Linked DNA regions of Homo sapiens: region 1 is linked to region 2. The links come from fine-mapping of genetic effects on gene expression. A gene starts in region 2. The other region holds a variant in brackets. All regions are shown on one strand. Distances are from middle to middle.

Evidence for each region. PIP is the estimated chance that this variant, and not a neighbour inherited with it, causes the effect.
Region 1: its variant is fine-mapped to the expression of ICMT in whole blood (INTERVAL, PIP above 0.99).

What each region holds. Positions count from the first base shown.
Region 1 is chr1:6,263,198-6,265,992 of GRCh38, reverse strand. It overlaps ACOT7 (acyl-CoA thioesterase 7), which reads left to right. Exons shown (of 9, transcript NM_007274.4): 9 at 1,298-1,721. The coding sequence ends at 1,396. Among named protein-coding and RNA genes, the nearest start is that of GPR153, 3.5 kb to the right of the region's middle. The variant C/T (reference allele first, on the strand shown) is at 1,306.
Region 2 is chr1:6,234,540-6,237,334 of GRCh38, reverse strand. ICMT (isoprenylcysteine carboxyl methyltransferase) reads left to right here and starts at 1,371. Exons shown (of 5, transcript NM_012405.4): 1 at 1,371-1,618; 2 at 2,361-2,449. The coding sequence starts at 1,424. It overlaps ICMT-DT (ICMT divergent transcript), which reads right to left and starts at 1,095. Exons shown (of 5, transcript NR_103534.1): 1 at 999-1,095; 2 at 185-369; 3 at 1-90. RefSeq lists an enhancer at 166-1,138 and silencers at 1,103-1,432, 1,643-1,702.

The DNA.
Region 1 (2,795 bases), 29 kb before region 2:
ACCTGGTGACATTTAGAGACTGATTTTGGAGAGAGCTGAGGGGAGGAGGCATTTGGTATAACTTGACATTACATCCTCTGGCTGACTGCGCTCTCTCTTGCCAATATACCATTTGTCTATGAAACACTTAGGCCCAAAAATAGCTGTACAGTTTGGTGTCATTGTGGATGAAATGAAGGGCAACTGCCCCATCTCTTTGGCTTTCAGACACCCTCAAAATGTTGCGATGAAATGTCCCAGAGGAATTAGCACAGCTCATTAAACCTGAATTCCCAGCCAGGGTGGGGCCAGTCAGAACATGGCGTTGGGACAGATGGGACATCAGAAGTGACCACCTAATACTCCAGGGGTGGCACCTGCCCAGGGGCCACAAGACAGAGTGAAAGGGGGTGCCGTTCATAATCGCAGCCCGTCGACAGGCATGAACCAGGACCGTCCTGGGCAGAACCCCGTCTTGGGCCAAATCCCACCTGTTCAGTTGGCTCTGCCCCCAGACCAATGAGATGGGGTCCCTGGGGTCCAAGGTGCCGCCTCCTGAGTGTACGGTCCAGAGCGTGGTGACAGGGCTCCCTCCCAACAAAGCAGGCCTATTGCTCCCAGTACGGGGCGGGGCCTTCTCAAGGCCATAGGCAGCACAGCATCTGCCCACTTCTCGCTGGGGCAATGGCCGTGTGCAGCTGGCTTTCCCCACTTCTCTCCGGGGCGGTGACCGTGTGCAGCTGGCTTTCCCCACGTCTCTCTGGGGCAGTGACCGTGTGCAGCTGGCTTTCCCCACTTCTCTGCGGGGTGGTGACTGTGTGCAGCTTTCCTGGGAGTGCAGCGAATGCAGGGTCCCTCTTCCTTTCCACTTCCGTTCAGCTCCCATGTTTCATTATCAAGTGCATTTTCCACCGAAGTCCAGTAGCAAACAGGCCCTGGGCTTGGAGGTCACCTGCTGTGAAAGGTGGTGAGAGGATGTCACAGGGCTCGGCACTTCACTGACTGCTTCTGACCCGCCATGCCCTTAGTGTCTCCTCTATGGAGCTCTGCCACCTGTGGCTCCTGCGGCCCCTCAAAGCATCTTGGCTGAACATACCCAGCCCAGTCAATAGGCCCATCAGCGAGGTGGGACATGAGCCCCATGCCTGGGCTACCCGGCAGTCCCAGGAGGCCAGCGGGGCCGAGGCGTGGTACTCAGCATGCACCAGGGGTGGGGCAGATCCCACGGGTGGGGGGCAGGGCCCCAGGCCAGGTCACAAGGCCACGGCACTGGTTCTGCAGTGACCCTAACCTGCCTGTCTCTGTGTGTGGTCCACAGCCCGAGAC[C/T]GAGGACGAGAAGAAGCGCTTTGAGGAAGGCAAAGGGCGGTACCTGCAGATGAAGGCGAAGCGACAGGGCCACGCGGAGCCTCAGCCCTAGACTCCCTCCTCCTGCCACTGGTGCCTCGAGTAGCCATGGCAACGGGCCCAGTGTCCAGTCACTTAGAAGTTCCCCCCTTGGCCAAAAACCCAATTCACATTGAGAGCTGGTGTTGTCTGAAGTTTTCGTATCACAGTGTTAACCTGTACTCTCTCCTGCAAACCTACACACCAAAGCTTTATTTATATCATTCCAGTATCAATGCTACACAGTGTTGTCCCGAGCGCCGGGAGGCGTTGGGCAGAAACCCTCGGGAATGCTTCCGAGCACGCTGTAGGGTATGGGAAGAACCCAGCACCACTAATAAAGCTGCTGCTTGGCTGGACCCACGTGTCCTGGGTGGTCATTTGTCTTGGGGGGGCTGCTTTCCCAGGGGGTGTGGGACATTGGGGCTCCCGTGGACAGTCTCAGCCCTCCCAGCACCAGCACCTGCATGTACCCTAGAACCTCAGGCACAGCCACACCGATTGGTGTCCGGCTGGTGACTTGCTGGCTATGAATGCCCATTTCCCGTGGGTCCCTGGTTTGGTGTCCTGGCCCCAGACACCCTGGCTCCCTGGACCTCATAGGCAGCCCAGATGCTGGGAGGATGTGGGCTCAGGGCCACGCTGCCTGGTGGGAGTGCCAGCACCCCACAACCCCCCTGTCTGGCTTGCAGAGGATGCCGGCTCTGAGCCTGTGTGGCTTTCCTATGAACAGGGTGGGGCTGCTGGGAAAGACTCAGCGAGGTGATGGTGTGGGAAGAGCCAAATGTGGCCTGGCTCAGCGTGTGGGAGCCCCACCCTGACCCAGCCTCTTGCTAGAAACTGCCTAGACACCCCAAAATCCTGTCTGAAGGAGCCCCCCAGCTGGCGCCAGGACTCTGTGCCTGACGTGGAAACTCCCCCAGCCACTCAGGCAGGAGTCTGCTGGGATGGCTTATAGGGCAGGGGTCTGAGGGACAGCACGAATGTGTGTCAGTGCCGTTGGTGTGAAGCTGTGGGCATACGTGTCACTGACATATCTGTGCATGTGCGTGTGCATCTGTCTGCATATCTGTGAGCACGTGTGTGGTGAGGGTATCGGTGTAGCAGGGTTGATCTGTGCATCTGGCCCAGCCAAGGCCACTACAGGGACCAGGACCCCACCTGCATCCATGGCTGAAAAGGAGGCCCTCCAATCAAGCACACCCAGAAGTGGCATCTGGGAGAATGTTCCCAATTCAGTCTGTCCCTGAAGCCCCAACATCTGTCCTGCCGCCTGGAGAAGACTGGCCCGTCAACAGCTGCGGCCTCGCACAAGGCTCCCTCTGGCCCCTGGAGAGCGAGGACTCGGCTCCAGATGTGCAGAAACACCAGCCAAGAGCTTGGGAATCTGTCCCGGGCCCCAGTCACGGCTGACGGGGTTATTTCCTGTCTGG
Region 2 (2,795 bases):
GTGCTTTGTGAGGCTGATTGGAGGATCACTTGGGCCCAGGAGTTCCAGACTGCCGCACTCCAGCCTGGCCAACACAGTGAGACCCTGTGTCTAAAAAAGAAAAAAAGAAAAAAAAAAGGTACATATATAGTCGGCGTTATACCATTTTGGCTGATAGCTTGATCATTTTCCCAGGCTCAGATACCTGCCCTTTTTCCCCAAGTGAAGTCAGGATCACACCGAAAAGCTTTGCCTCCTGCTATTTAAAAACCTAATATAGGCAGGGCGCGGTGGCTCACGTCTGTAATCTCAGCACTTTGGGAGGCCGAAGCGGGCGGATCACGAAGTCAGGAGATGGATCCCGGCTAACACGGTGAAACCCCGTCTCTACTAAAAATACAAAAAAATAAGACGGGCGCAGTGGCGGGCGCCTGTAGTCCCAGCTACTCGGGAGGCTGAGACAGGAGAATGGCGTGAACCCGGGAGGCGGAGCTTGCAGTGAGCCGAGATCGCACCACTGCACTCCAGCCTGGGCGACAGAGCGAGACTCCGTCTCAAAAAAAAAAGAAAACCTAACATATCCTGAGCATTCCCATCACCGTCCAGCCTTGTTCCACAACAGGAATTTAAGCGGGCGGTGGTCCCGTTGCATGGATGCCCAGGTGCCGTTGTCCAGGCCGGTTTCCAGGGAGCCGCAGAGGGAGGGCAGGAGGTCGCCGCACTTGGCCCCGCGCCCCAGGGCGTCTGGTTTTCGGGGACGACGCAGGGCCGGCGAGGGTGCGGCCGTTTCAAAATTTTTTTTTTTGAGATGGAGTGTCACTCTGTCACCCAGGCTGGAGTGCAGTGACACAATCTCGGCTCACTGCAACCTCCGTCTCCCCGGATCAAGCGATTCTCCTGCCTCAGCCTCACCAAGTAGCTGGGGTTAAAGGCGTGCGCCACCACGCCCAGCTAATTTTTGTATTTTTAGTATAGACGGCGTTTCCCCATGTTGCCCAGGTTGGTCTCGAACTCCTGACCTCAAATGATTCGCCAGCCTCGGCCTCCCAAAGTGCTGGGATTACAGGCGTGAGCCACCGCGCTCGGCTCGTTTCAAACTTTACATTGCTTCTTGGGACAGGAACCTCCTGAGTTTGGGACTAAGTTTGGACAGACGCGGGCGGCGACTTCTCCCACCACTTCCCGGCCCCCGCCCGGCACAGAGTCTGGCTCAGAGCCCGGATGTCCCCGAGGGGCGGGGAGGGGCGGGCGGGCGGGGCGCTCCCGCCAAATTCCGGACAGCAACAGGGCGGGCCGGAGTTCTCGCGAGAACTGGCAGGCGGCGCGCAGCTGCGGGCAGCTGCCCTTCCCGGGCCGGCATCGGCGGCACAGTGCGCAGGCGCAGCCGGCGCGTTTCTCCGGGCTACAGCCGGCGCCGCCGCCCGCTAGTCCGCCGCCCGGCGCCATGGCGGGCTGCGCGGCGCGGGCTCCGCCGGGCTCTGAGGCGCGTCTCAGCCTCGCCACCTTCCTGCTGGGCGCCTCGGTGCTCGCGCTGCCGCTGCTCACGCGCGCCGGCCTGCAGGGCCGCACCGGGCTGGCGCTCTACGTGGCCGGGCTCAACGCGCTGCTGCTGCTGCTCTATCGGCCGCCTCGCTACCAGGTGCAGGCCGGCGGGGGCCGGCGGGGGCCGGCGGGGCGGGCGGCGGTCCGCTTGGCGCGGCGCGTGGGCACCTTTCTCCCCGGGCCCGCAGTGGCCTCCCACGCGCGCGCTCTTCATCCGCGAGTTCAGGTCGCAGGAGGGGACCCTCTCTCTCCGGGCTCGGGCGCCCTGCACCCGAGGAGTGGGTTGTTAAATTGCAGCTTGTGCAGCTCAGCAGGTGCGCGTGGGGTGGAGTGAGCGAGCCCGCGAGTGCTTTTATGTAACTTAAGGTGCAGAGACCTACCTGCTGCCCTGTCTCAGGTCAAAGGCCCCGCAGTGACGTGGGTGGGGCTGGGCGCACAGGCCCGGGTGCCCTGACCTCATAAACTAGGCTTAAGCAGTTTTCCTACAGCCCTGAATAGTAATCACGAATAATAATAATAATGACAGCTAAAATGTAGGTAGCAGTTAGTCTTAAGTGTTTTACGTGGGTAATCCTTACTGCAGTCCTAAAAGGTAGGTACTGTTATCCCCTGGCTGTAGATGGGGAAGCAAGCTCAGAGAGGTTAAATAATTTGGGAGGCCACACAGCCAGAGAGCGGTGGGTGCAGAATTTGAACCCAGGTCGCCCACTTCTCCCTTTCAACCTCAGCAAATCGGCTCTATCTGCTTGCCTGTGGGTTGCCTATTCCGGGAAGGTCAGCAGCCCAGATCTGTACTCTGAGGACTGTGAATGACTGAGCTTCTCTTGGGTTCCTTTCAGATAGCCATCCGAGCTTGTTTCCTGGGGTTTGTGTTCGGCTGCGGCACGCTGCTAAGTTTTAGCCAGTCTTCTTGGAGTCACTTTGGCTGGTAAGAATTCCTTCGGAAATACTGGTTTTCAGGCGAGGGTGGACAGATCAGAGGGTCTGTAGCGGCATTTCCTCATCCCTGTCTCATCTGTGACCGGCAGAAGGCTGTTCAGGGTTCTCTGGAAACGAAGTCTCCTGGCTTCCCCCTAGTTGCTCACATTTCAGCCCTTGTGATTTCGTGCCTGTGGGTTGATTGTGAATCAGGCAGAAACAGATCTCCCTGGCACCCCCAAAGGTGCTGTCATCCGCAGCTGTGGTGACAGCATTCCGTAACTTGAGCAGCCCTTCCCGGAAGGGGTGCAGGTCCTCGGTGGCGGGCAGGGGCAGGGCTCTGGCTTGTCTTCATG